Linked DNA regions of Homo sapiens: all the other regions are reported to be linked to region 5. Evidence: microRNA targets listed by miRTarBase, many of them from high-throughput screens and not tested one by one. Region 5 holds a microRNA gene; each other region holds the end of a gene's coding sequence.

Region 1 (6,019 bases), not on the chromosome of region 5:
TGGGGGACGGATGCCATGAAGTATACGGCAGGGATGTCAGGAGGGTGCGTGAGTGGCTTCAGGAGGAGAGCGAAGATAAGAAACAAGTATACAGGAGAAAAGGAAATGAAATTACTAGGGACACACAGAAGTGCCAGGAAATGGGTGCCTATTAGAGGTTTGGGGTCAGGTTAGAATTCCAAGGGAAGCCTTGGTGAGTGTCCTCCAGCAACGCACAACCTTTCAGATACAGGCCCTAGGGGAGGCAGAGGGTGGAGATGAGCGAGTGGGGGCAGATGGAAGAGAACTGAGGGTATTTATAAGGCAGTGGTTTTGATACACAATGGACTTTGAGCAGCTGAGGGTTGGGAAATGCTTTCAGGCCTCACATCTGTCTCCAGGATTATTCGTTTTATTATTGTTTTAAATGACATTGTGTGTGCTCCGTAAAACATGGTGGAGTTAGCGGTCAGTTTTCCAGAAAAGGAAGAGGCATCTCCATCCTTAGGGGCTCGAAGTACCCCCTACTTTATTGCTGCATAACTCAGATTCCTCTGAGGGTTTATTTTATTTATTTATTTATTATTTATTTATTTTTTGCAATAGCGTCTCACTCCATCGCCCAGGCTGGAGTGCAGTGGCGTGATCTGGGCTCACTGCAACCTCCGCCTCCTGGGTTCAAGTGATTCTTCTGCCTCAGCTCCTGAGTAGCTGGGATTACAGGTGTGCACCACCACACCTGGCTGATTTTTGTATTTTTAGTAGAGATGGGGTTTCACCATGTTGGCCACGATGGTCTTGAACTCCTGGCCTCAAGTGATCTGCCCAACTCAGCCTCCCAAAATGTTGGGATTACAGGTGTAAGACACTGTGCCCGGCCCCTCTTAGGGTTTATATTAGGAACAATGTCCTCAACTATTGCAGCGATATATTGTATGCCTAATTTTAGTGCCAGAACATAGTAGACCATCAATAAACATGTGGCGAACTAAACAATCTCAATGTTAGGCAAACCTTAGAAGCCGGTGATAGCCCATGTGGAAGTCTTCAGAAAGCAAGCTTCCTTAGATTTCCAGTTTGAATCCTACATGATTCTTGGAAAGTTAATAGTAGAGAGTGTTTAATGGTACAAAGTTTCAGCTGAGGAAGATGAAAAAGTTTTAGAGATGGATGGTGGCAGTGGAGCATAATGATGTGAATGTAATTAATGCCACCGAACTCTACACTTGAAAATGATAAAAATGGCACTCCAGCCTGGGCGACAGAGCGAGACTCCATCTTAAAAAAAAAAAAAAAAAGGAAAAAGAAAAAAAAGAAAAAAAGAAAATCAGGTGTAGAATAGTGTAGTATATTCCTTTTAAGAAAATGAATGGTAATATACTTAGGTACATATAGAAATACTTGTACATCATCTCTAGAAGTATAACATGGAGGGCCTTAGAAGCCCAGGTGACAGGGAGACCTATTGCTCACTGCATACTCTTTTTTTTTTTTTCCCTTCCCTTGCCCTCTTCCATTCCCTTCTCCTCTTCCCTTTCCTTCCCCTCTTCCCTTCCTTTCCCCTCTTCCCTTCCCCCCGCCCCCCCCCTTTTTTTTTATTTTGAGACAGAGGTCTCACTCTGTCGCCCAGGCTGGAGTGCAGTGGCACAATCACAGCTCACTATAGCCTCAACCTCCTGGGCTCAAGCAATCTTCCCCTCTAAGCCTCCCAGGTAGCTGGGACTGTAGTTGTGAGCCACCGCGCCCCACCCTGTACTTTCATATTCGTGACCATGAGTATTATTACTTTCTCAAATAGAAGAAGAACCTTAAAATATGAGTTGTGGCTCCTAAGCTTAAATTGTTACTATTGAGTACATTCCTTAAAAATTATCCTTGTTGGGCCGGGCGTGGTGGCTCACGCTTATAATTCCAGCACTTTGGGAGGCCAAGACGGGCGGATCACGAGGTCAGGAGATCGAGAAGGGGTGAAACCCCGTCTCTACTAAAAATACAAAAAATTAGCCAGGTGTGGTGGCGGGTGTCTGTAGTCCCAGCTACTCAGAGAGGCTGAGGCAGGAGAATGGCGTGAACCCGGGAGGCGGAGCTTACAGTGAGCCGAGATCGTACCACTACACTCCAGCCTGGGCGACAGAGTGAGACTCTGTCTTAAAAAACAAAAACAAAAAACAAACAAAAAATTATCCTTGTTGGACCTGGTGGTGCACACCTAGAGCCCCAGCTACTCAGGAGGCCAAGGCAGGAAGATCGCTTGAGCCCAGGAGTTTAAGACCAGCCTGGGCAACATAGCAAGACCCTGTCTCAAAAAAGAAAAAAAGTTTGTCCTTGTTTTAAGAACCTAATTCTATATAAGCATTGGTCACCTGAGTTTCCGAATTATGTCTGTTCAATTTATTTTTTGGAGACAGAATCCTGCTCTGTCACCCAGGTTGGAGTGCAGTGGTGTGATCTCAGCTCACTGCAACCTCCACCTCCTGGGTTCAAGTGATTCTTGTGCCCAGGCTCCAAGCAGCTGGGACTACAGACATCCACCACCACACCTGGTTAATTTTTGTATTTTAGTAGAGATGGGGTTTCACCATGTTGGCCAGGCTGGTCTTGAACTCCTGACCTCAAGTGATCCGCCTTCCTCGGCCTCCCAAACTGTTGGGATTACAGGTGTGAGCCACCGCGCCTGGCCAAACTTCGTAGTTTTTATCATCTATCTTGATGATGCCTGACGCCCTTTTTCTTACTTTTCTATGTGCAGCATAATAAGAGTGCCACATACTCCGTGGGAATGCAGAAAACGTACTCCATGATCTGCTTAGCCATTGATGATGACGACAAAACTGATAAAACCAAGAAAATCTCCAAGAAGCTTTCCTTCCTGAGTTGGGGCACCAACAAGAACAGACAGAAGTCAGCCAGCACCTTGTGCCTCCCATCGGTCGGGGCTGCACGGCCTCAGGTCAAGAAGAAGCTGCCCTCCCCTTTCAGCCTTCTCAACTCAGACAGTTCTTGGTACTAATGTGAGGAAACAAACATGTTCAGGCCCTGAACATTTCCGGTGCTGACTCGGCCTTAAACGTTTGTGCCATAATGGAAAATATCTATCTATCTGTTCTCAAATCCTGTTTTTCTCATAGTGTAAACTCACATTTGATGTGTTTTTATGAAGGAAAGTAACCAAGAAACCTCTAGGAATTAGTGAAAAAAGAACTTTTTTGAGGTGTGTTACTATACTGCTGTAAGTTATTTATTATATAAAGTATTGTAAATAGAATAGTGTTGAAGATATGAAATATGGCTATTTTTAATGGTGACAATTATGACTTTTAGTCACTATTAAATTGGGGTTACCTATATCAGTACAATTTGTAGTTGTTTCCAGGTTTGGCTAATAATCATTCCTTAACCTAGAATTCAGATGATCCTGGAATTAAGGCAGGTCAGAGGACTGTAATGATAGAATTAAATTAGTGTCACTAAAAACTGTCCCAAAGTGCTGCTTCCTAATAGGAATTCATTAACCTAAAACAAGATGTTACTATTATATCGATAGACTATGAATGCTATTTCTAGAAAAAGTCTAGTGCCAAATTTGTCTTATTAAATAAAAACAATGTAGGAGCAGCTTTTCTTCTAGTTTGATGTCATTTAAGAATTACTAACACAGTGGCAGTGTTAGATGAAGATGCTGTCTACAAGGTAGATAATATACTGTTTGATACTCAAAACATTTTTCATTTTGTTTAAAGTAGAAGTTACATAATTCTATATTTTAAGTCTTGGGTAAAAAAGTAGTTTTACATTTTATAAAGTAAAGATGTAAATGATTCAGGTTTAAAGCTCTATTTGACTTCCTTTTTTTGTTTGAGATAGCGTCTTGCTGTGTTGCCCAGGCTGGAGTGCAGTGGTGTGATCTCAGCTCAGTGCAACCTCCGCCCCCTGGGATCAAGCGATTCTCCTACCTCAGCCTCCCAAATAGCTGGGACTACAAGGTGCCCTCCAGCATGCCTGGCTGATTTTTGTATTTTTAGTTGAGGTGAGGTTTCACCATGTTGGCCAGGCGGGTTTCGAAATCCTGACCTCAAATGATCCACCCACCTCAGCCTCCCAAAGTGCTGGGATTACAGGCATGAGCCACCACAACCGTCCCACTATTTTACTTTTTAAAATGACATTCCTACTGATTGATTTTTATCTTGCTATAAGTTCGATGACACCGTGAATCTAATAAGGTTCACTGTTGACACAGTACAAGTTACATAGCTAAAATACATAGCATTGAAGACTAATTTTAAGGATTGACAAGAGTTTATTTTCTATTGTGCAATATCTTAAAGGAAGCAACCACCTTTGGGAAAGTGTATCTGCTGCTCCTAGGGCCATGCTTGTATACATATTTAAATAAACATATTCATTTACCCGAGTTAATATTTCTTTTTACTTTTATTTCATTTTCATTCCCTCCTCTTTCAAATTGTTTCTCCCCAATGCACACAGTTTCTAATGTTCTGATTTTTTTAGTTACTAACATTTCACAAAGCAGAACTTAAAAAGCTGTCAAGTTATCTTAGTATTTTCTAAGACAGATGGTATCTTTGTGCTTATTTTTTGTTTTTGTCTTTTTTTCAAGACAGGGTCTCGCTTTGTCACCCAGGCAGGAGGACAGTGGCGCAATTGTGGCTCATGGCAGCCTCAACCTTCCGGGCTCAAGCAATCCTCCCACCTCACCCTCCTGAGTAGCTGGGACTACAGGCATGAGCCACCATGCCTGGCTAATTTTTTTGATTTTTTTGTAGAGATGGGGTCTTGCCATGTTGCCCAGGCTGATCTCGAAATCCTGGACTCAAGCAATCCTCCCACCTCAGCCTCCCAAAGTGCTGGGACTACAGGTGTGAGCCACTGTGCCTGGCCTGTGTCTATTTTTTGAATGGGCAATTTGTACCTTTTGATCCCCAGCCCCTGCTTCCCTCACTAGATGCAGCTGCTGCCATCATTTTCTTGTATCCTTCCATTGTTGGGCCTTTCATATACAAACACAGCCTGTTCTGCCTCATGCATGTTGAGTTTTCAACTTTAAATTTTTTTTTTTTTTTTTTGAGATGGAGTCTCACTCTGTCATCCAGGCTGGAGTGCAGTGGTGCAATCTCGGCCCATTGCAACCTCCACCTCCTGGGTTCAAGCGATTCTCGTGCCTCAGTCTCCTGAGTAGTTGGGATTACAGGTGTGTGCCACCACACCCAGCTAATTTTTGTATTTTTAGTAGAGACAGGGCTTCACCATGTCGGCCAGGATGGTCTGGATCTCCTGACCTTGTGATTCACCCCCCTTGGCCTCCCAAAGTGCTGGGATTACAGGTGTGAGCCACTATGCCCGGCCGTTGAGTTTTCAACTTTAAGTGGGAACTTCAGACTTCATACTTTCTGTGTGCAGAAGACATATGCAGTGATTATAAACAAACTGTACATCTGCCAAAAAAAAAGGCCGGGGGGAGGGAGGAACAAAGGAAAGGAGGAAGGAACTGTTGCGCAGTTATTTATTTACATTGGAAACAGCCCTCGCAGTACGGGTATATGAAGGCCAGACCTGATGAACAGCAGGTGAAACTCTGGGAACCCAGGGCTTAGGATACACAGTGCTTCCTTGTACATTTGTTTCCTTCAGATGGTCACATCCACCACTGAAGCTTTTTAGAAGGCACTTTCCATGACAGATGCAGGTCAAGGTCGCACATTAAAATCGGCCCTAATGCTTTTTGCTGAGTGTGAGTCCCTGACTCTCTTGCGAAGATCCCACCAGCCCTTTTCGTCTTAGCAGAATGAAGGCAGTGCCCTCTGCGGCCCACTAACTTCACAAGCTGAACTCAGACGCTAAGGCAGGACGACCCACGGGCTCCATTCAAGCCTCGCCTCATCTTTCACTGGTTGCTGCTGGAGAAAATCCTTTTTCTTTTTTTTTTTTTTTTGTTGTTTTCTTTGAGACGGAGTCTCGCTCTGGTGCCCAGGCTGGAGTGCAGTGGCACGATCTCAGCTCACTGCAACCTCCGCCTCCC
Region 2 (5,562 bases), not on the chromosome of region 5:
GCGGTGCCATCATGGCTCACTGCAGCACCCACCTCCCAGGCTCAAGTGGTTCTTCTGTCCTAGCCTCCCAACTGGGACCACAGAAATATGCGAACATTTTCAGCTAATATATATTTTTTTAATTTGTAGGGACAGGGGCTCCCTATTTTGCCCATGTTGCTCTCAAACTCCTGGGCTCAGGCAATCCTCTCACCTTGACCTCCCAAAGTGCTGAGATTCTAGGCTTTAGCCACCATGCCTGATCGTATGTTTACATGTTGAAATTCTAACCCTCAATCTCATGGTATCAGGAGGTGGGAGGTAATGAGGTCCTGAGGGTGGAGCCCGCATGAATGGGATTGCTGGCTTATTAAAAGGAACCCCAGAGAGCTCTCTTCTCCCTCTCTCTGCCAGGCGAAGACACAACCTGAAGTCTGCAGTCTGCCACACAGAAGACAGTCCTCACCAGGGCCCAACCAGGCTGGCACCCTGATATCCGACTTCCAGCCTCCAGAACTGGGAGAAATACAATTCTGTCTGCCCTGGGGATGAGCTCCCCAGGCTATGGCTCTTTGCTCTAACAGCCTGAACTAGCATAGAAGTGCTATCCCATCATCTGGGTTGTATTCTATTCAGAAAGGCGTCACTAACCCCTCAGTGCTGTGATCCTTGCGGACGCTGCCCACCATAGGCTGAGATGAGGCACAGGGTCTGGTTCTAAATAGAATCAGAAGGCACTGGAAAGTGCAATGTCAGAGGACGATGAGGGCTGAATTTCATATAATCTCAGCCTCTACTGGTGCGCATGGAAAACGAGGCCCAGAGCAAAAATGCCTTTCTCGAGATCACACTGTGGACCCCAAGCCCATTGGAGTTGTATTCCATGCTACCTCTCACCCCTCACTTCTTCTTGAAATTCTTCCATCTCTAAGCGTGTGCAGTATCTACAGGGGACACCAAACAATGAGTTTTATAAGATTTATCTCAAAGACACCTGATGAGTTCACCAGGAAGGAGATGCTAGCAAAACCCCATTGTGCATGTTGCAGGGCTGGGGAGGCCCCAAAACACCAGAAAACTTCTCTAGGGTCACAGAACTGGTAAGATCAAGGAGGTTTGGCCCAGCACTGTCTCCTCAAACCTAGGGCCTTAGTTGCCTCCAGGTCTTCCCAGGGTGACGAGGGGGCACTTTTTTTGCATAATTTGGAACAGGTAAGAAGTTGGTAGGAACAGGTAAGAATAGGGGGTTGGTGAGTGGTCAGAAGCCCAGTGGGGCCTTTGAGTAGGTCTTATGGACGGAAGGAGCATAGGGGATTGGACCTGGAAGAAGTGAGTCTCCTCTCAGATCCTGGGCCTTGTGATGGGCTTTCTCCCACCCTGGAGTCTTCCGGCATTTTCCCCCTGCCAAGGGCTGAAATGGCCTTAGCTGTTTCTCCAGACTCCCTTTGATGTTAAAGGATGAAATCCAATTATATTCCTTTAAGTTAAAGCATTCTTCTAAAGCATCTTGTCCTGTGCACTGTCTCTAAAATGAGGAGGGGACGAGGCCTCCCCAGGCCCTTTCCCTCCATATCAGAAGTGGAGCTTCAGGTGGCCTAGAGGGGATTTCATGTAGCCCTCCCTCTGGAAGGTGCTGAGTTCTTTTTTTTTTTTTTTTTTTTGAGACAGAGTCTCGCTCTGTCATCCAGGCTGGAGTGCAGTGGCGTGACCTCGGCTCACTGCAAGCTCCGCCTCCTGGGTCCACACCATTCTCCTGCCTCAGCCTCCCAAGTAGCTGGGACTACAGGCGCCCGCCACCATGCCTGGCTAATTTTCTGTATTTTTAGTAGACACGGTTTCACCGTGTTAGCCAGGATGGTGTCGATCTCCTGACCTTGTGATCCGCCCACCTCGGCCTCCCAAAGTGCTGGGATTATAGGCGTGAGCCACCACGCCCGGCCAGGAAGGTGCTCAGCTCTGACCCAGGTGCTGCTGCACTGCCATTTGACATCCAAAAGCCCGCGTCTCCTCATCTCTACCATGAGGATGATTTTTGAGGACTCACTGGGATGATGCTCTTGTAGGCTACTAATACAGCAGGTGCCACTGCTTCACAGCTGACAAACACCGTGAGGATGCCTTGAAGGCACTAATGTTTTTCATTATTCTCCACTTTTTTTTTTTTTTGAGTCTTGTTTTTTCACCCAGGCTGGAGTCCAGTGGTGCAATCTTGGCTCACTGCAACCTCCAACTCCCGGGTTCATGTGATTCTTCTGCTTCAGCCTCTCGAGTAGCTGGGACTACAGGCACATGCCGCCAAGCCCAGCTAATTTTTTTTTTTTTTTTAGTAGAGACAGGGTTTCACCATATTGGCCACGCTGGCCTCAAATTCCTGATCTCGTGATCCGCCCGCCTCAGCCTCCCAAAGTGCTGGGATTACAGGCGTGAGCCACCACGCCCTATTCTCCACTCTTATGTCAAATTTTAAAGTCTAGAACCTTTTCCACCATGGGAACCCATGTCCTCCACATCCACAAGTCTCCAAAGGGTTGGGGATTCCTTGTGTGAGCTCCAGATCCCAATCCTCTGGTGGTTCATGGTGTTGTCAATGACAGGTCTCTCCTTGTCACCCCAGTATGAAAATGAGGAGACTTACAGGGTGCGAACATTCCAGATAGGTACAGGGGAGAAACTGGTGAAGGCCCTGGTTCCAGCCTTTCTGGGTAGAACCATCTCCTCCTATGCCACCTGTTTGGGCCCCTCCTGGGACTTTATCACCGTGCCAGACTTCATGGAGGAACTGTTTACCAGGTGAATGTCCATCCCCTCCAACTCACAGTGGTGACTGTCTCCGACTAGCTGTGTCTTGAGGATGTCACCGAAGCCCTCTGAGCCTGTTTGCTCCTTTGTAAAGCAGTGAGATGAACCTCATAGGGTTCTTATGGGAACTAAATGGCCTAAGGCATGGCAAGCAGGTCCCAAGTGCCTGGCTCTGTGAAAAGGCTGCTGAGCATGCTATAGTTCACATTTATTATCTTTCCCTTCAATGGAGCTCTGGGCATGCTGTCTCAATGGCCCATATCCCTGTTTGGAAAAGCACACAGAAAGCAAATCTGTTTTTGCATTTGTAAAGGATGTCTGTGATTCTTTCTAACTGGTCTTTGTCCTTGACAGAGAAAGAACAGTGGTCCCTTGGGTCCTGAAGGAGGGGCCCCAGGCTCACTCAGGTATCTGTAGAGGTTCTGGTTGAGGTTCATTCATTCAACAGATATATATGAAAAATGTAATTTATGCAGTCACTTTTCCAGTGGCTTGGCATAATTTAGTAAAGAAAGCAGATGACAATGCCTGGGCCTCAATTCTACTTGAAGTGTCAGATACTTCCAGTAGAGCGCATAAGCAGGTCATATCCACAGAATGTTAGATGTGACAGCCTCATGGCCTCCTCTAGGTATGGTGGCATCTTCCCAGGTTCTGGGACTAGGATGACATAGCCCAGGAACAAGTATAAACTGGGTGGATTTAGGGTTCTGAAGGGTCTTTTGACTTCCAAACATACGTGGAGGAAATATGTGGACTGTAGCTGGGAAGAGACTGAAAAAACCCTGGGTCTCATCTCTCTTATGATTCCCATGAGAAAGTTGAGATCTAGGGACTTTCCCTACAAAAGGAAAGGAGAGTTGTAGATGGCACCTTAGGTCCCCAGTAAAATATAGGGGAGGCTATGGCCAGGGCCGACCCCCAAGAGAACCATTCCCAGCACAGGGGTTTCCTATCTCTGCCTGTCCTCCATGCCACATCTGCCTCTCCCAACCCAAGCACCAAGTGGCCCAGAGCTGGAGTTTTGATGGGCAACCTGCTCACACATCTGCCTGGAGCTGCAGTTGTGAGTGCCCAGGTGCTCAGCACTGTGTGCCAGGGCCTTTGGGAAGAGAATGTCAGTAGGAAGCCGGGGCCCGCAAGGGTCTGTATAGCCCTGCTGCATGGCCAGGTCTGCCCCTATCAAGACAGCACAGATGGCTGGGGCTGGAGTGGGGCTGTCCTCTACACAGGAAGCAACAAGCCAGGGGCCCAGAACCACAATAAAAAGCCCCGCAAGGGCCAGGCGCGGTGGCTCACGCCTGTAATCCCAGCACTTTGGGAGGCTGAGGCGGGCGAATCACGAGGTCAGGAGATCAAGACCATCCTGGCTAACACGGTGAAACCCCATCTCTACTGAAAATACAAAAAATTAGCTGGGCATGGTAGCGGGCGCCTGTAGTCCCAGCTACTCGGGAGGCTGAGGCAGGAGAATGGCGTGAACCTGGGAGGCGGAGCTTGCAGTGAGCCGAGATTCCGCCACTGTACTTCAGCCTGGGTGACAGAGCGAGACTCAGTCTCAAAAAAAAAAAAAAAAAAAAAAGCCCTGCAAGGCATGTGTAGGAGGGAGGCCAGGCCTCTGGTTCTGCTGTGCCCTCCATCACCAGCACCACCACCTACCTCCATTTTGTTCACCCGGCCCCATGGATACAAAAACTCTGCCGTGTATTTAGAATAAGAAAGGTAGTAAAGCTATGAAGACTTTGTCTTTTGGGCCGCTATTCCTTAAACCTCCCCATACTCCCTCTTCAATGTGTTCCACTATCCATTCATCTAACAGCCTGATTACAACTCCCTGGGTGCTCTCCAAGTAAGAGGGGTATTTAGGGTTTTGCTGAGTGCAGGGGTGATGCCTAAATGGGTGGATGAATGGACAAACTGACAAAGCAACAGACGAAAGGAAACATTCCAAAACCTTATTGAACAGAACTTTCTTCATGACACCTCTCGGAATGTAAACAGAGCTTGGTGTGAAGAAGATCAATCTGATGGCTAAAGATCAGTATGACTGCGTAAGGCAGTTTGACATCTACCCATCCCTAACAGATTTTCCTAAAACTCTGTGGAACAACCAAGGAGAAGGCATATTCCTCCCTTTCCAAAGGTGGGCAATGTGCCTCTTCCTGGAAGGTTATTTTACAAGCACGGGCCCCTGAAAGCAGCAGCCTCCCCATCAGCCATTTTGGCGTGAGCAGTTACAGCTGCACACTTTGCAACTTGTCCCGCCTTGAGTCTGATGTCAGAAGAGCATGTCAGTCCACTTCCACTTCAGAGAGGGTTGGTGGTGTCAGGCAGCCCTGCTGTCCAAGGTTCTATCCTTTGATCACAGCAATTGGTCTCAGTTTAATGGCTTTCTTGCTGATTCCAGCATCATGGCAGGTATTTACCACATCTGTCACATTCTTATAGGACTCAGGAGCCTGCAGGAGAGGAATTTAAACATTGTACAAGTCCACTGAAAACACAGTCTTTACAAGCACCAAACTTCACTTGTGATGAAATAAATGCACACTAAAATAATACAGAGAGTTTTTTTTTGCCTATGAAATTAGCAAAAATTTAAAAAAGAAGTAAGCCTGATGTTGGTCAGTGCTGATTTCCAAAACACTTTCACCTTTTTTTTTTTCTGTATTTTTCAAAATGTCTTTAAAGAACATGTATTACTTGTATAACTAGGAAATGTAGTAAATGTAAGTAAATAAAACACACACCAGAACCTGATTGGAAGAAACGGCACCCAACCAT
Region 3 (5,549 bases), not on the chromosome of region 5:
GAACCCCTTTGAGCTGGACACCCAGCAGGGGCCTCAGGTGGACAAGGAGCAGTTTGAACGAGTCCTAGGCTACATCCAGCTTGGCCAGAAGGAGGGCGCAAAACTCCTCTGTGGCGGAGAGCGTTTCGGGGAGCGTGGTTTCTTCATCAAGCCTACTGTCTTTGGTGGCGTGCAGGATGACATGAGAATTGCCAAAGAGGAGATCTTTGGGCCTGTGCAGCCCCTGTTCAAGTTCAAGAAGATTGAGGAGGTGGTTGAGAGGGCCAACAACACCAGGTATGGCCTGGCTGCGGCTGTGTTCACCCGGGATCTGGACAAGGCCATGTACTTCACCCAGGCACTCCAGGCCGGGACCGTGTGGGTAAACACCTACAACATCGTCACCTGCCACACGCCATTTGGAGGGTTTAAGGAATCTGGAAACGGGAGGGAGCTGGGTGAGGATGGGCTTAAGGCCTACACAGAGGTAAAGACGGTCACCATCAAGGTTCCTCAGAAGAACTCGTAAGAGCAGCTGTCAGGGAGGCCCAGTCACAGTCCAGCAATTCCACAACCACCTTGACGAATGCTTGCCAAGCTGTTTTAAAGCCAAGAACACCCTTTCTTTGTTCCAAATTAACTCTTAGAAGAAACCCCACAAATAAAGCAATTCAATCAAGGCTGTTCTATTTAAATCAGAGATGGGGACCAGGCTCAGAGTTCTACCTATCTAACCCCCAACCACAGCCCCCTTGGTGGCCCATGAGTTGCTTCCATGAAATCTTAGGAGTCTCTGGAGGACAGATTAAAAACCAGTGATCTGTAATTTGTAGCTCTTCCTGCTGATCCAAGGACTTTCCCATGGGTGCGCTTGATGGTTTAGTGGATCGACTCAACTCAGAACACAAGCTTGGAAAGTGTTAGGGGTTTTGAACTAGGTGGATACTAAATCTCGGCCCCACTCTTCATTGGCTTAACCTAAAAACCAGAGGTGCTTTTCCTTGTCTGTGTGCCAGTTGCTGGCTGTTTTAGTTGCTTGCCCTTCATTTTGCTACTGATTTTCCTTAATTTGTGGGAAGGAGTAGGCAAAGAATATGCTTACATGATTACACCTGTAAAGTAAGCCCAAACATCCCAAATGTCCGTCAACTGATGAGTGGATTAATAAAATGTTTCCATGGAATATTCCTTGGATTACTCAGCCATAAAAAGGAATGAAGTACTGACACATGCTGTGACATCAGTGAACCCTGAAAACATCCTTCTCAGTGAAACAAGCCAGAGAGATGTACAAGGCTACAGACTGTATGATTCCATTTATATGAAATATACATACTAGGCAAATCCATGGAGATGGAACATAGATTAGTGGTTGCCAGGGGATAGAGGAGTAATTGTTAGTGGGCATGGGATTTGTTTTTGGGAGGTTTTGAAAATGTTCTGGAGTTGAACAATAGTAATGGTTGCATGATTTGGTAAAAATACTAAAAACTATGGAATTGTTTAATTATGGTATATGAATTAATTTCTTTCTTTTTTTCTTTTTTTTTTTTTTTTTTGACACGGAGTCTCACTCTGTCGCCCAGGCTGGAGTGCAGTGGTGTGATCTCGTCTCACTGCAACCTCCGCCTCCCAGATTCAAGCGATTCTCCTGTCTCAGCCTCCTGAGTAGCTGGGATTATAGGTACATGCCATCACACCTGGCTAATTTTTGTATTTTTAGTAGAGATGAGGTTTCACCATTTTGGCCAGGCTGATCTTGAACTCCTGACCTCAGGTGATCCACCCGCCTCAGCCTCCCAAAGTGCTGGGATTACAGGTGGGAGCCACAACACCCGGCCATGAATTAACTCCGTTAAAAAATAAACGTATACATTCTGTGAGCAAATCCATTTTGTCTCCATATTGTCCTGCTGCTGAACATTTTATAGAGTGTGGGGGATGGAAGGGACCCAGGTGGTCTAGTCAACCCCCAGTCAGGTGCAAAAGTCCCCTCCCCAATGTTTCTGTTTTTGTTTTCTCTTGGATGGGTGACAAAGTGCAACTGTAAGACCCGTAGAGAAAAACTCTGGTTCCTGCTCAGAATGGGCCCATCTTGTTGGACTCGTTTCCACAGCCCCCCACCCCTTCCAAACCATACCCACCCTTCAAGCCAAGCCTAGCATGGGGGCCACCTTGACATGCTGGGGATTTCCAGAGTTTCAAACCTCAGAGTTCATAATGTTTATTGTTAGTCTTGCTACATTCATTCCCCAACTGATGGGAGTGAAGGCAAATCCAAGCCAGCCAGGCCACAATACAGAAGCAGAATGCTGAGCCTCCCTCTCTCGGTCCATCTTTCTAGACCATGCTGCTTACAAGCCACCTTACGTTCAAGTCCCCCCATTCCTGTAAATGCACACCCCACTCATCTCTGCTTCCCAGGCTCAAGCAATCCTCCCACCTGAGCCTCCCAAGTAGCTGGGACTACAGGCACTCACCACCATGCCTGGCTAATTTTTTTTTTTTTTTTGGTATTTTTTGTAGAGATGAGGTTTCACCATGTTTCCCAGGCTTGTCTCAAACTCCTGGTCTCAAGCAACCCTCCTGCCACGGCCTCCCAAAGTGCTGGAATTACAGGCATGAGCCACCATGCCTGGCCCCAGTCAACTCTTAAACATCCTATTGTCTTACCTAGGCAACATGATGATTTTGTTTATTATCATAACTTGGGTTTGGCTGGAAACTGCTGCTTGAGGGTTCAGAGTCTGTTTGGTTCCCTCACCTCCCTTCCTAGGACCTCCTTTCTACACCATTTGTCTACAGCTAAGGTGACCCTGACACTCCCCCATAGTGCACCTTCTACGGATTTCTCTGGGAGGCTGTTGGCACCTCTGTTGCACAGCAGCGAAAGTTTCTCATAAACGCACTGGGACATGGAAATGGGCGGCTGGGTGTCTCTAATGATTAATGTGCAACATCACAATATTTTAACAACTCCATTCCTTATTTAAGTTTCAATACTCCTTAACCAAAGACGAGCTCTGTAGACAGTGTTCCAGTATGGAATGGGATTGGAAAAGACAATCTTCATGGTCCCTTGTTTTGAGCCCTGAAATTCTGAGAGTGAGGAGCCTGTAGGTCAGATTGTTAATAAACTCAGCCATCACGGCTCCTCCACCCATTTTTAAATTCTTTTAAAAATTTATTTATTTATTTATTTATTCATTCATTCATTCATTCATTGAGATAGGGTCTCATTCTGTTGTCCAGGGTGGGTGCAGTGGCACGATCATGGCGCACTGCAGCCTCCACCTCTTGGGCTCAAGCAATCCTCACACCTCAGCCTCCTGAGTAGCTGGGACTACAGGCATATGTCATGATGCCTGGCTGATTTGTGTATTTTTTGGAGAGACAGGGTTTTGCCTCATAGCCCAGGCTGGTCTTGAAGTCCTGAGTTCAAATGATCTGCCCACCTTGGCCTCCCAAAGTGCTGGGATTACAGGCGTGAGCCAGCAAGCCCAGTCCCCTCCACTCATTTTACCACTGTGCTGAATGCACAGACTTGTGAGCAGGGAGGTTTAACTGGGTGTCCTCATTCAGGCCAGACACTGCCCACCAGACTCACACTTGGGAGATGTTGCAATTCTGGGGCTTCCATCCACTTAGCAAACTCTCACCAAGATCTTACTCCATAAACACTATGCCAGGCACCTTGCCATGCTATGGAAGCCTCACAACCATCCTATAAAGCAGGTAGTGGAGTAATGGAGTTACCACCCCACTTTTTTCAGGTGAGGGAAAGGAAGTGGAGAGGTTTAATAGGGAACTCTTCTGGAATCAGTTCCCCATGAGCATGCACGAGGGACCAGAGAGCGGCGCATACTGGCAAGCACATGGAACCAACCCTCCAAGCCTGGAGAACCCACGGCAAAGCCCAGCAAGCCCTACACACCCAAGCCAGCCACTGTGCTGGATGCATCAGAGCTGCTGCTCAGTCCCACCGGTTCTCCTCAGACCCGGGGCCATTTAGGAACTTTCATTTGGGTTGGCTCCATTCTGGGTGTGAGGCTGACCTCTGGTGGCCACCTGATTCATTAATTCACACAAGTAACTCTTTGGTTTAAGAAAAAACAAAGGGGTTGGGTGGGGGGCGATGGTCCTGCTCTAGGCCTATTGTTGGGGGAAAGAGAATTGAGTAAGACAGTCCCTTCCCTGCAGGAGCTCACAGTTGGGCAGGGGAGACAATTACAGAGCCGGGTGGACAGTGCAGTGAGAAGCACAGAGGCCGTGAGATCATGAGCGGAAAGCAAGCCTCTGTATCAAGCACACACGGTGGGCCACCTCCCTTCATGCTTCTTTCTTTTTTTTAATTTCGTGATGGAGTCTCGCTCTGTCTACCAGGCTGGAGTGCAGTGGCGCAATCTTGGCTCACTGCAACCTCTGCCTCCTGGGTGCCTCCTGAGTAGCTGGGATTACAAGCAGACACCACCACGTCCGGCTAATTTTTGTAGTTTTAGTAGAGACAGGGTTTCACTTTCTAACTGCCATCAGGGCCCTCAGTATTATTCTTCTGCACTTGATAGACATCAAGCCTGGGAGGTGTTCAGCAGTGAGTGGAGACAGGCTCAAGCTCAGGTCCTCTGATTCTGCCAGACACCGCTGCCTCCCAGGGCTCCCAGCTCAGTTCAGGCACAGGCCCAGTGGGAGTGGGCATGGGGTCCTGCTAAATGACTAGCAGGGGACCAGAGGGATAAGGGAAGGATGCTCCTGGAGTCTGAGAAATATGGAGGGTTGGAGGAAGGGCAAGTTTTTCCATGAGGAGGAAAGAGGCAGGGAGGAAAAGCATGGGGGCAGGGGGCAGGCAGGGGCTGGACTGTGAAGGGGCTCGTGCATCCTTTCAGAAAGCTCACACTTGGTCTAGCAATGGGAGGGTGCTTTTTGGTTTTGCTTTTGTTTTTTAAACAGGGTCTCCCTCTGCCACACAGGCTGGAGCACAGTTGCTTGATCATAGCTCACTACAGCTTCAAACTCCTGGGCTCAAGCGATCCTCCCACCTGAGCCTCCCAAGTAACTGGGACTACAGGTGTGTGCCATCATGCTGGGTTAACTTTTTTAACATTTTGTAGAGATGGGGGACATCTCGCTGTGTAGCCCAGGCTGGTCTTGAACTCCTGGCCTCAAGCAATCCTCCTGCCTCAGCCACCCAAAGTGCTGAGATTACAGGTGTGAGCCACCATGTCTGGCTGCCCCCGAGGGCTTTTAAAGGAAAGTGATAGGATCACATTCGGTTTCTGAAGCTGGCTCTGCTTCAATGTGGAGGATAGATTGAGGGAGTTGACCTGGAGTCAGCACCTCTCAGGACATTGTTGCTTGCGCCCAAAGTGATGCTGGCACACCAGGGTGTGGGGTGGGGGCAGAGTCTGGACAGCCAGAAGGCAGGCTTCAGGGCATGATGACAGATGGACAACTTGGCACAAGAGAGGAGAGAAAGTTGGGTAACCTCATGTTTCTGGCTGCAGTAACCACGTGGGGGGTAGTGCCAGCCACTGCAACCACCCTGGAGGTTGCACGTTTAGGGACACGGTGGG
Region 4 (6,019 bases), not on the chromosome of region 5:
CTGACAAAACAGAAAGTTCTTTACAAGTGATTACAGTTACTTCAGAACAATGTAATACAAATGCACTCACAAACACACAAACCAAAGGACGGAAGATTAGGAGGCATAAAAAAGAAAAGGAGGAGAAAAAACGAAAGAAGCCAGTTTCCCAATCCCTTGAGTTTCCAACAAGATACAGTCCTTACAGACCTTATCGATGTGTTCACCAGGGATGCTTTGCTGCCTTTACGATACAGCAAAACTTGATTCTCCATTACCAGGCTGTACACAAATCAGATCTACCTGCATTTTCAGCAGAGGTCGAAGAGGAAAGTGAAGCTGGTAAAGAAAGTGAAGAAACTGAAACTAAACAAACTTTGAAAGAATTTCGATGTCAGGTAAGTGACTGTTCTCGAATTTTCCAAGCAATTACTGGCCTAATACAACACTACATGAAACTTCATGAAATGACTCCTGAAGAAATTGAAAGTATGACTGCTTCAGTGGATGTTGGGAAGTTTCCATGTGACCAGTTAGAGTGTAAATCTTCATTTACTACATATTTGAACTATGTTGTTCATCTAGAGGCAGACCACGGGATTGGACTAAGGGCAAGTAAAACAGAAGAAGATGGTGTATACAAATGTGATTGTGAAGGCTGTGACCGTATATATGCAACCCGGTCGAATCTCCTCCGACACATTTTTAATAAGCATAATGACAAACATAAGGCTCATTTGATTCGTCCAAGAAGATTAACACCAGGCCAGGAAAATATGTCAAGCAAGGCAAACCAAGAAAAATCAAAGTCTAAACATCGGGGGACCAAGCACAGCAGATGTGGAAAGGAAGGAATAAAAATGCCCAAGACCAAACGAAAGAAAAAAAATAATTTAGAAAACAAGAATGCAAAGATTGTGCAGATTGAAGAAAATAAGCCTTATTCTCTGAAACGTGGGAAGCATGTATATTCTATAAAGGCTAGAAATGATGCCCTGTCTGAGTGTACAAGCAGATTTGTAACCCAGTATCCATGTATGATAAAGGGATGTACTTCAGTTGTTACAAGTGAAAGCAATATAATTAGACATTATAAGTGCCATAAATTATCTAAGGCATTTACATCACAACACCGAAATCTTCTTATTGTATTCAAACGGTGTTGCAACTCACAAGTAAAGGAAACGTCTGAGCAAGAAGGTGCTAAGAATGATGTGAAAGATTCTGACACGTGTGTATCAGAGAGCAATGATAATTCAAGAACAACAGCTACAGTTTCACAAAAGGAAGTTGAAAAAAATGAAAAAGATGAAATGGATGAACTAACAGAATTGTTTATTACAAAATTAATAAATGAAGATAGCACAAGTGTAGAGACCCAAGCTAATACTTCTTCAAATGTAAGTAATGATTTTCAGGAAGATAACCTCTGCCAGTCAGAAAGACAAAAAGCAAGTAATTTGAAGAGAGTTAATAAGGAAAAAAATGTCTCACAAAATAAAAAAAGGAAAGTTGAAAAAGCTGAACCAGCATCAGCAGCTGAGTTAAGTAGCGTGCGTAAAGAAGAAGAAACTGCTGTTGCCATTCAAACCATTGAGGAGCATCCTGCATCTTTTGACTGGAGCTCTTTTAAGCCAATGGGATTTGAAGTATCATTTCTGAAGTTTCTTGAGGAGTCTGCAGTGAAGCAGAAGAAAAATACTGACAAAGACCATCCGAATACTGGAAACAAAAAAGGATCCCATTCAAATTCAAGAAAAAATATTGATAAGACTGCTGTGACTAGTGGAAATCATGTATGTCCTTGTAAAGAAAGCGAAACGTTTGTACAGTTTGCCAATCCATCACAGCTTCAGTGCAGTGATAATGTAAAAATTGTTTTAGACAAGAATCTTAAAGATTGCACTGAGCTTGTCTTAAAGCAACTTCAGGAAATGAAACCTACCGTCAGTCTGAAAAAACTTGAAGTACATTCAAATGATCCAGATATGTCTGTTATGAAAGATATCAGTATAGGTAAAGCCACAGGCAGAGGTCAGTACTGATAATTAATGTAGTATAAATACATCATTTACCATTTTATTTTAAATAGGAAGCCATCAAGCATGCTAGAATTGTGAAACTTTCATTATATTTTTTTGTTGTTGACATGAATTAACCTGGCCAAAAACAAAAAAGAAAAAAAAAACATGACATTTGTCATGTAAAACTTTTTTTTATCCCTATGGGACTTGAGGAACAGAATCAGTACTTCAGTTATTGTAAATAGTGAGCTAAACCTCAAATTTCTATCACCCAGTTGCCCTTTTCATGAACTAAACAATTATCTGTGTGATTGGTATGTTTCACCAGGTCACTGCTCATGTATAACAGTACTCTTTATTTGTAGATACCTTTTTTGTATATATTTATTATTGTAAATCATGTGCTGCCACCAGCAGTCTGTAAGTCTAAACTATTAAATGACACATTTATATTTGGAATTTTAATTTTTAACTAAGCGATCAAGTTTTTTAAATTGTTCTTTTATTGTTTTAAATTAAGAACTTTTTGAACTAAAACCAGAAACTCTGCCATAGTTCATTGATTTTTACATGAAACATTTATTTACAAGATGATATCAAGATTACTTTTCACAAAATAGGCACATTATATCAACACTTTGCTCTGCTTTGTAAATTTGCCATCCAGGATTTTGGGGTGGTATTCATGTGAAATTAAAGCAGATTCTCTAGCAGTTTCCTATAGCTACAGTTTTTTTTTTTCATTGCTTCTAATTGGATATAGTTACTATGAGTCCATGAAATACAATGGAAATGTGAATAAAGAATTTACTACATTGAAGATTTTAAACATTTGGTATTAAAAAAAAATCCTTTGTGAATGTGATAGAAAACTAGTAGTGTGGAGCAGTGTAAATATTTGAGGTGGTGATTTGTGAAGTAGCCCAGTATTGCCTTAAATAAAATCACATTTCATTTCTTGTTTTATACATGTGATCTTATAAAGATTTTTTGTTTTGTTTTGTTTTCCATTTTCTGAGATTTATAGATTGGTGTATAGCTTTAAACTGTATAAAGTTTTGTGGAAAGATTTTTTTAAACATTTTTATAAATCTTAAAATTGATATCATCAAAGTGAGCCCATCTTGTGTTTATAAAATACAAGAGTCCTTAACATTTATAATTACATAGATAAAACACTTTCTATAAGGAAGTTGGATGTTTTGATTTTACTGTTTATAGATGTTAGATTGTACAGATTTGTCTGTATTTCTCACCATATCTAATGATACTTTTTTCATTAGATTGGTCTTCAAGAACAGTATTAGTTATAATTATTTTGGTTATTCAGTATATAGTTAGCTCTTACAGTTTAGCTTTATTCACCATATTTATACTGTGGATTCACAGCGAGAGGTAGAGGTTATTCCAGGAGAGTTGATGACCTTCATTTAAAGTCCAACTAAAATCAGTAGTAGAAACATAAGAAAACATCTTTGCAATATTTACTTTTGTTTCTGTTTGCCGTAAATAGTAACATTGTTTTTTTTTATTTTGTGTTTGTTATAAAACAGTTGCATTCACAATATTATTGGCCTGAGATATTGATGATATTGTGATGGTATGAAAATGTGTACATTCCCTGTGCAACATCAGATTTGCAGGAAAAATGAAGCACTTACTGAAATCGCTGGTACTCTGAATAAATAAGCATGGTCAAGGAGTGAACTATTTTCTTTTGGAAATTTCTTTTTAATTTTTATTATTAAAGTATTTTATTTTTAGGGCCTTTTGGGTTTTATTGAATAGTTCATTTCACCTGTTTAAGACTTACTACCAATAAGCATAAAACCTGACACGTTAAAATCCCTGCCCTTTGGTGAGCCCACTGTTATTTATTAAAATAAAAGTTATTTTATGGGTGATTAATACATGGGTTTTCTTTTTCCTAAATTAACAATAATTTAAATAACTGAGTAATTTTAATATTAAATTTTTGTTAACAACTGAATGTTTCCATACAGTTTTCTTAGAAATTGACCTAGCTCTTAAAGGTGGGCACTTGGCAAAACTGCCCTATATAGCACAGTAGCAAGTAGGTTTATTTCTGATCATTGTAACTATGAGCCACTGTTAAGTGAAAATGCCAATGTATTGGGGCTTTTCTTTTGCTCATTAGCTTAAGAAAATTTATAACTAGACATTTCTAATTGTTTTACATGTCATGGGGAAGAGTTTGCCAACATTTAATGAAATTTTTATATTCCAGGTAATGTATACTAAAGGTAATTATGAGAGTGGGCTTTTTAGCATGAAACAAAAAAAATCAAACTATGGTAAAAAGACATGAATTTATAGAATAGCATGTTGGTAAATTTTGATACGGAATGTAATGTCTAAGTATTAAAAAATCATAAAATATATTTTTTTCATGGTATACTTTTCCCCAGCCTATTGTCTTGAGATATCTTCTACAGCCTAAATTTGCTAAAGTTTCATCACTAAAAAGTAGGAGTTTTTCCTCTTCTGAACCCGCAAAGTTTGCATATTACAGGTCAGAATTGTATTATTCAAAATACATCACCTTAAGTGAAATGTAACAGTTTTTGAAATTTTCAACGGTGTTAAATTTAACATAGGTACATTATTATTTTAAAGGGCTAGACATATTTTTAAGGCAAATTTTTATCAAGTGAGCAGTCACAGTTGCTGTAGATAATATGAAAGTACAATAATACTATACCTAGGGACATCAGAAAGAATGCCCTATTTTTCTGGAAAAGGAGGTAGGTAGTTGGGAAAGTCTTTGTAGAAAATATGAGTTTTGAAAGATGAATGAATGCTCATTGGTTCAGGGGGACAAGGGAATTCCAGACTTGGGGGTAGAGCGTAATTGCGGTATTGCCAGTGGGCCACTTGGAAAGATAGGAAGTTGAAGAAGGTGAAGCTGAAGAAGCAGATGGGTGGTGGGATCAGGAGTGTTCTTGTATGCTGTATTAAGTCTTTATTTTGGTTTTTGAAAATTGTTATTGGATGCATGTATATTGAACAATTTAATCAGTATCAGTTTTAGAAAGATAATTGTCATGGTATAGTGGATAAATTGAGTAAGTTGGAGATTAATTAGGGGGACCTAAAATAGTCCAGGCAAAAAATGATGGGAGCCAGAAGAAAGGCTAACGAAGTTGGGGAAGAGACTAATGGATAAGAGAGATAATAAAAAGTAATGTCTAAGGCAGCCTGTTTCAGCATGTTTATTGTAGTGAGATACTAGGCAGGTGGAAGGTTATTGCTGTGATGAAATAAGTTTTCTAAATTGTGTGCTGTAGTTCTCTCTCTCTCTCTCTCTTTTTTTTTCTTTGTTTTTTTTGGAGACAGAGTCTCGCTCTGTTGCCCAGGCTGGAGTGCAGTGTTGCACGATCTCGGCTTACTGCAACTTCTGCCTCCCAAGTTCAAGTGATTCTCCTGCCTCAGCCTCCCCAGTAGCTGGGACTACAGATGCATGCTATCACACCCAGCTAATTTTGTAGTTTTGGCACAATCTCAGCTCAGTGCAACTTCCATCTCCCAGGTTCAAGTGATTCTCCTACCTCAGCCACCCAAGTAGGTGCACACCACCACACCTGGCTGATTTTATATTTTTAGTAGAGACGGTTTCACCATGTTGGCCAGGCTGGTCTTGAACTCCTGACCTCAGGTGATCACCCACCTCCACCTCCCAAAGTGCAGGTATTACAAGCATGAGCCACCACACCCAGCCTCTCTTAAATAATTTAATGCATGTTTGCATATTAAAGACAAAAGTTCTACTGTAAATATGTAAAAAGTTGAAAGGGAATTTTCCAGACTTAATTGACCCTGAGAACATTTTTCTTCTTTTAATGTTAATACTTAGTTATATCCCACTGAACTAGCATTCTAAAGAACACACTTTGGGAAATGCTGATCTCAAATGGCATTTATTCAACCAGGACTGATAATCAACGTGTACACCAATTCAATTGTATCAGCTGTTTGCAAATGGTGATTATTCTGAT
Region 5 (6,019 bases):
GCAGTGAGGCCCCTGCCCTCCCTGTGCCCTGGTGGTCTGCTTGTCCCTGGGTGGGGCCCATGGGGGCCTGCCAGCAACACATCTGTGTGGGAAGCCATCCGTCCACCTGCTTGTTTAGCCATGCACAGGCCAGGGCCAGACCCAGATGGAGCCCCTGCCCCAGGGGGCTCCAGATATGTGGGGTGAACTGGGTGAGGAGAGCGTGATGGGAAGGTGGCTTCAGAAGCAATCAGGGAGGGCTCTGAGGAGGTGCCTACCCTGCCAGGAGCAGCCCAGAGAGAGGGACAGAGGGAGGCCGGAAGGCCAGAGGGAGAGGACCCATGGGAAGGCCCTGGGCCTGTGGCAGAGTTTCAGTTGCTTGGTGTGGTGGGAAGCTGTAGGAATGTGTTTTTATATGTGAGTTTCATTTACGTTTCATTTTTATTTTACTTATTGTTTTGAGATGGAGTCCCGCTCTGTTGCCCAGGCTGGAGTGCAATAGCACAGTCTTGGCTCACTGCAACCTCCGCCTCCCGGGTTGAAGCGATTCTCCTGTCTCAGCCTCCTGAGTAGCTGGGATTACAGGCATGAGCCACCATGCCTGGCTAATTTTTGTTTTTTTTTTTTAGTAGAGACGGGGTTTCGCCATGTTGGCCAGGCTGGTCTTGAAGTCCTGACCTCAGGTGATCCGCCTGCCTCAGCCTCCCAAAGTGCTGGGATTATAGCTACCGCCCAGCCCTAATTTACATTGCAAATGGCGATGCTTTGCCTGGCTCAAAATTCTGAAGGAACCGAGGATTGTGTGGAGGAGACGCCAGCTGAGCGCTGTCCATGCACCAGCAACGGGCAGGGGCCAGGTAGCCGCCACCACGGTGAGCGCTGTACACGCACAGCACCTAGAGCTGCTTCCCACAGCAAAGGGCAGGGGTTGGGTAGCCACCATGACTTCCCCTCTACACGGAGGACACGCCTGTGCCTTGACCTCCCCCCTTGACCCTCTGTGGCCCTGCGTCAAGGAGGAAGCCTGGAGGTGGCCTGGCTGCCTTGCCCTTCTTCCCAGCCACAGGGTGCTCTAGGTGGAGGGACTATGGCCCGGCCAGCTTTCCACAGGGATCACTGGCTTGGCCGAGTCACCCGTTTGCGGGATTTCTGTAGATCGCCGGCAGGCTTCTAAGGGGTAGTTACGATGGGATTTGATTTGCACTTCACTGGTCAGCAAGCACCTGGGTGGAGAGGTATGGAGAGGGGAGGCAGGTGTCACCATTGCCCCTGGACAGATGCCTGGGGCTGTGCTGGTTGGGGAGGACTCAGGTGGAGGAAGAGACCACCTTTGGGGCTGAGGAATGTGAGTCTCAAGGAGTGGGGTGTGGTGGGCAGTTTGGGGCTCTGCTCCCGCCTGGCTCCTGAAATACCGCTGGGCACATGGATGCCTGGAATGTGGGTGGGAGGGTGGGAGGGCAGGGCTGGGCTGGTGGGGCCTGCAGCGGGAAGGGGAGGCTACAGGGTGGGGTCTGCTGGGCGGGGGGTCTGCTGGGCGGGGCAGGAACAGTAGGGAAGACCCGTGGGCTGGGGCCGGAGGGCTCTCTGGGATTGCAGGCAGGCCAGTCCCCTGCACCCCCAGGCAGGTCTGCTGGGCTGGTCTGACCCGTCAGTCGGCTGGGCTTCATCTCTGCTTACTGACTAAGGGGTGGCTGCGAGGAGGAGCCGCTGCTACCAGGGCATGAGTGGGCCCTCCCTCTGCCTCCCACCCCTTCCCTCCTTCCTGCCTCGCCTTCCTCCCTGCCGGCTCTCGGAGCAGCCTGGCCTGTGTGGCAGCCATGGACAGGTACAGCATGGAGGAGCTGATTCAGCTGGGCCAAGGTAGGGCAGGCAGAGCTGGGGGCTGTGGGAGGCAGAGGAGAGGGCCGGGGCCGCCTCTGGCAGACCTGTCTCTTCCCGTTGTCCACCGTTCTGTGCCGTCAGACCTGGGATGCAGGGATAGGCACAGCCCCCTCTCGGAGCTGCCCCAGGGGTGTGTGTGATGTGTGTCCCGGAAGCACAGGCCTGTCCGGACCTCCGTGGAGTGGTAGAAGAACTGCCCGCTGCCAGCCTGGGGCACTCCTCCCGCCAGGAGCTGGTTCTCACCCAGGCCATTGAGTCAGGCTCCTCTGAGGCTTCCCCAGCACGTGGCAGGGAGTGGGCTGAAACGTCCGGCCTGTCGGCCCCTGCCCACTGCTGGCCAGATGCTGTCCTGGGCTCAGCTGGGAGTTGGGCCCTTTCTGGCATGCCTGGGTATCCCTGACCCTCAGGGCTGCCTGGGCCCGCCCGACCCCTGGCCGCCCAGAGTGGGCCACTGCAGGCATTTCCCTCGGCCGCACGTTTTTGAGGTGTGGGGCTGGAGAGCAGGAGGCTGGGGTGGGCCCGGCCCTCTTGTTGTCCGCGGGCTTCCCAGCATGGACCTGGGTGGCCTGCCCAGTGGCCCGGGGCCAGGCTGGTTCACTGTGCCTTGCTGTGGGCTGAGGTAACTACACTGGAGGCCACCTGGGCTCAGATGGCAGCGTGCGGGACAGCAGGCGGCGCCTCAGGCTCCTGGTCTGTATGAGGCCTTCATGGTATAGGACTTCATGGGGTTTGCTGAGGGTTCCATGTGGTGCCAGGAGCGACGCTGTGGAATGGGGTATACCGTCAACGTGCATTCTCCTGGGCCTGAGGGGTGCGCCCAGCAGACAGGGGTCCCAGGAAGAGGAGCAGGACTGTGCGTGTCCCACGTCCTGTTTCCCCGGCTGCATTGGGATCTGATCTGCATAGGATATGCTGTGGGCCTGCCTGTGGCCCGGCTCTCTGACCCAGGCCTTCCACAGAGCAGGGCTTCGGGACTCCTGGGTGGAGCCAGGCCAGTCTCCTGCCGTGGCCCAGGAGAGGCGTCTCCATCCCAGATCCCTGGGACCCCAGGAGAGGCTGTGCTGTGGGGCAGGCGCAGGCCTGAGCCCTGGTTTCGGGCTGCCTGGGTCTCTGGCCTGCGCGTGACTTTGGGGTGGCTGTCCCGGCCACCGGTGGGGCCAGGTGCTGTGTTGAGTGACCTGCGCAGGGCCCTCTGGGAGAATGGGCGGCCTCTTCTCTTGGCCCCTGTGGCCTTTCCAAGAGCACCCCCTGGCTTGGCAGGGCAGGTGGGTGGGGACTGCACCGCCTCCTGCAGGGACGTGAGCCCGCACCTCCCGCGCCCTGCTCTATTATATTAGAACCCCCTGTGGGAGCTGGGGGACCGAGGTGTCGGGTGGCACCGTCCAGCCAGACCTGACTGCAGCGGGGCCTGGGTGCCCTGGCGCCGTGCGTCATGTTCCAAGTCTGGGTGGTGACGGTCCTTGCGCGCCCTCCTCGGATATTTATATCCCCTGGGCCCCTGCCCACTGCTCCCCTCCCCCACAAGCTGCTGCTGACAGCAGCACGGCCGTGCCCTCCTCCCACCCGACGCTGCCGCCAGTGGCTTGTGCCTCCTCCGAGGGGCCTGTGACCTCCCACACCCCTGGCCCGCTCCGTCTGCCCCGTGGGCTCCTGCCACCGTCCCCGATGAAGATCGTGCCCGGTAGGTGGGCAGCCCTTGAAAGCCTTGTGAAATCCTGGCCCCTTGCTGGGGACAGGGGCCAGAGGGCTGGGGCTGAGGCTGGAGGCCAGGGGCGCTGTCCCTCGCCCTGCACACAGCCTGCCTCATGTGCCCTCACCCAGACCCCCTCAGCCCTGGTCTGCAGTCTCACTTTTGGGGTGTTGGGGCTGGTGAGGAGGGCGAAGTTGAAGGAGTGCAGTGGGTTCAGCTGCAGGCTTGAGGTGGGGGCTCTGGCATCCCTCCATGCCTGCCAGCTGTCCCCAGAGGGCAGCCTTGGAGGCAGAGTGGGCTGCTCGGGCCCCTCTTCTGGTGGGGACAGCAGGGGGAGGCTGGGAGGGAGGGAGGGTGTGTGCCGAGGCCGCGGGCAGTGCTGGGGGGCTGCGGCTTGGCCAGGCGTGCGGCTGGCCCCTCCTCCCGGCGGGTGTGGCCGCGGGGACGCAGGGGTTAAGGCCAACTAACCTTGAGCGTCAGTAGCCCTGCGCAGGGACAGCTGAGCCGGCCGGGTGGGGAGCGAGGGTGGGGAGGCGCCGAGGGCCGGACCCGCGGAGGGAGGAGGAGAGGAGGCGGGCGGGAGCTGTTGTGGGGCTGCCGCCGCGTATGGGGCGGTCCTGCGGGCAGGGCAGGCTCCGGTCCCGGCGCTCCCCCTCGCTCGCCCTGCACGCAGGGAGGGGGCTGTCTAGCCTGGAGCAGCCGGTTCCCAGCGCAGGAAGGGCAGCCCTGGCGGCTCCGCGTGGCGGCTATGGAGCCCTCGGGCAGCCTGTTTCCCTCCCTGGTGGTTGTGGGTCACGTTGTCACCCTGGCCGCTGTGTGGCACTGGCGCAGGGGACGTCGGTGGGCGCAGGACGAGCAAGGTAAGCCCCGCTGGTGGCTGCCAGGGACTCGAGGCGGGGCAGAGGGGCCGCCTGCCTCCCGCCCCTTCATTCCCTGCGCCCTCCCCTTCCTGTTTCCAAGCTGAATGTCAGTGAAAGCAGTGTTGCCCCTCCACCCCACCCTGCAGTGTAGACCCTGACCCTGCTGCAGTCCCAGGGCGGGGCGGGCTCTGCAGTGGCCCTCAGCCTGCAGCCTGTGCGGGACAGGTGGGTGGAAGCGGAGGCCGGCAGGGCAGGAGCGTCCCCCACACGAAGGGAGGCCTGTGGCAGCCGCCGTGGCAGGGACAAGTGGGCAGGTGCCTGTCCGGCCAGCACTGAGGTGGAGGTGGCTCCCTGCACACACAGCAGGGGGTGGAGCCACACGCAGGTGAGGCAGGTGCCCTCATGCCCTCGGGCCGCACAGGGGGCGGGGGCAGCCAGGCTGTGCCCTGCCCTCCCTGCTCAAAGTCACCAGCTCCTGGGCTGTGGTCCCAGGTGGCAACCGTGCCCAGCACAGGATGGGGCGGGGCCCTGGGGATTGGGCAGCCTCAATTATGGGCTTCTGGCCAGAGGGACTGCCTATCGGGGACCTGGCTGGCCAGACCTCTCCTGCAGTGAGGGCGCTGCCTGGCTCAGCTCCTCTGCTGGATCCCCGGACTTGAGATGAGTCAAGATGGGGCTTCTAGGCGTGGCGCTGGGGACGCCCGGAGCTGCCGGGGACTCAGCTGCCAGGATGGGACTTGGGCTGAGGGCTTCTTCCCCATCCATGTTTTTGGCTGGGGACCAGACACTGTCCCTGCCTCCCCACCTCAGCCCACAATTGCCCCCTTCGGCCACGGTCCTGGCTCACAGGATGCCTCTACTCCCTGGTGGTGCCAGACGCGGCTCAGCTCCTCGGTTCTGCCTCCAGCGTTGTCTGCCCACCACCTGGCCCCATGCCCTGCCTTCCTCCCTGGGCCCTGCAGTCCCCACCGCACATCCTGCTGGGAGGCCCCCTCCCATGCCGCTTCAGTCCCAGGGCAGCCTCCCAGCCCGGCCCGTGGGTTGGGGCGCGGCTTCCTGGCTGCGCTGGGCGGGGCTGCGCGCCAGGGGCAGGTTCTTTGGGTCTGGGCCTCGCTCCCGCAGTGGGCGGATTGTGGGGGGGAGGTGGAAGAGGTGGAGAGCGAAGCCGGCAGCCTCGCAGCGTGGGCTGGAAGCAGAGGCGCCGCCGCGGTCCAGCTCCCCGCACTGTCCGTGGGCCGAACCAGGGCTCCGGCCGTGGCCGGCATGTCGGGGGCGGGGGGCGCCTTTGCCTCGCCGAGGGAGGTCTTGCTGGAGCGGCCGTGCTGGCTGGACGGGGGCTGCGAGCCGGCCCGCAGGGGCTACCTCTACCAGCAGCTGTGCTGCGTAGGTGGGTGCAGTGGCGTGGCCGGTGGCACAGAAGGGGCCACCATCGCTCTCACCTAGTGGGGCTGGGTCTCTGCTGGGAACCGCCGCCTGGGCTGGGATGGGGGTGGCGCCTTGGCCCGGTGCAGCCTTGCCCCCGAGCTCCGGAAACACCTGGGGAGGAAGGCGGGGTGATGTTCCCCTACCCCCATTTGTTTGTCTCTAGAGAAGGGGCTGGAGGGGGCGG

Evidence for each region. The annotated mature microRNA hsa-miR-661 reads UGCCUGGGUCUCUGGCCUGCGCGU and lies in region 5 at 2,960-2,983, shown strand. An mRNA with a match to its seed (bases 2 to 7 or 8) in the 3' UTR can be bound and repressed. Matches are read on the target gene's strand: a 7mer-m8 pairs with bases 2 to 8, a 7mer-A1 pairs with bases 2 to 7 and ends in A, and an 8mer does both.
Region 1: the mRNA of RHPN2 is a reported target of hsa-miR-661. Seed matches in the 3' UTR shown: 7mer-m8 at 3,859-3,865.
Region 2: miRTarBase lists RTCB as a target of hsa-miR-661. The part of its 3' UTR that is shown has no 7-base or 8-base seed match.
Region 3: miRTarBase lists ALDH1B1 as a target of hsa-miR-661. Seed matches in the 3' UTR shown: 7mer-m8 at 1,561-1,567.
Region 4: miRTarBase lists ZNF292 as a target of hsa-miR-661. Seed matches in the 3' UTR shown: 7mer-A1 at 5,126-5,132 and 7mer-m8 at 5,376-5,382.

The regions. Positions count from the first base shown.
Region 1 is chr19:32,976,966-32,982,984 of GRCh38, reverse strand. RHPN2 (rhophilin Rho GTPase binding protein 2) reads left to right here. Exons shown (of 15, transcript NM_033103.5): 15 at 2,729-4,393. The coding sequence ends at 2,989. FAAP24 (FA core complex associated protein 24) reads right to left here. Exons shown (of 5, transcript NM_152266.5): 5 at 4,756-6,019. Among named protein-coding and RNA genes, the nearest start is that of FAAP24, 7.7 kb to the right of the region's middle.
Region 2 is chr22:32,382,863-32,388,424 of GRCh38, forward strand. RTCB (RNA 2',3'-cyclic phosphate and 5'-OH ligase) reads right to left here. Exons shown (of 12, transcript NM_014306.5): 12 at 4,720-5,237. The coding sequence ends at 5,130. LOC339666 (a long non-coding RNA gene) reads left to right here. Exons shown (of 3, transcript NR_038918.1): 3 at 394-1,481. It also overlaps the pseudogene RGL4P1. Among named protein-coding and RNA genes, the nearest start is that of RFPL3S, 14 kb to the left of the region's middle.
Region 3 is chr9:38,396,795-38,402,343 of GRCh38, forward strand. ALDH1B1 (aldehyde dehydrogenase 1 family member B1) reads left to right here. Exons shown (of 2, transcript NM_000692.5): 2 at 1-1,867. The coding sequence ends at 508. Among named protein-coding and RNA genes, the nearest start is that of ALDH1B1, 6.9 kb to the left of the region's middle.
Region 4 is chr6:87,259,778-87,265,796 of GRCh38, forward strand. ZNF292 (zinc finger protein 292) reads left to right here. Exons shown (of 8, transcript NM_015021.3): 8 at 1-6,019. The coding sequence ends at 2,024. Among named protein-coding and RNA genes, the nearest start is that of SMIM8, 60 kb to the right of the region's middle.
Region 5 is chr8:143,942,170-143,948,188 of GRCh38, reverse strand. It overlaps MIR661 (microRNA 661), which reads left to right and starts at 2,910; the gene lies at 2,910-2,998. It overlaps LOC124902040 (a long non-coding RNA gene), which reads right to left and starts at 4,325. Exons shown (of 2, transcript XR_007061144.1): 1 at 4,019-4,325; 2 at 402-2,623. It also overlaps a transcript of PLEC not described here. RefSeq lists enhancers at 1-692, 693-1,480, 4,879-5,128 and silencers at 4,009-4,278, 5,349-5,808.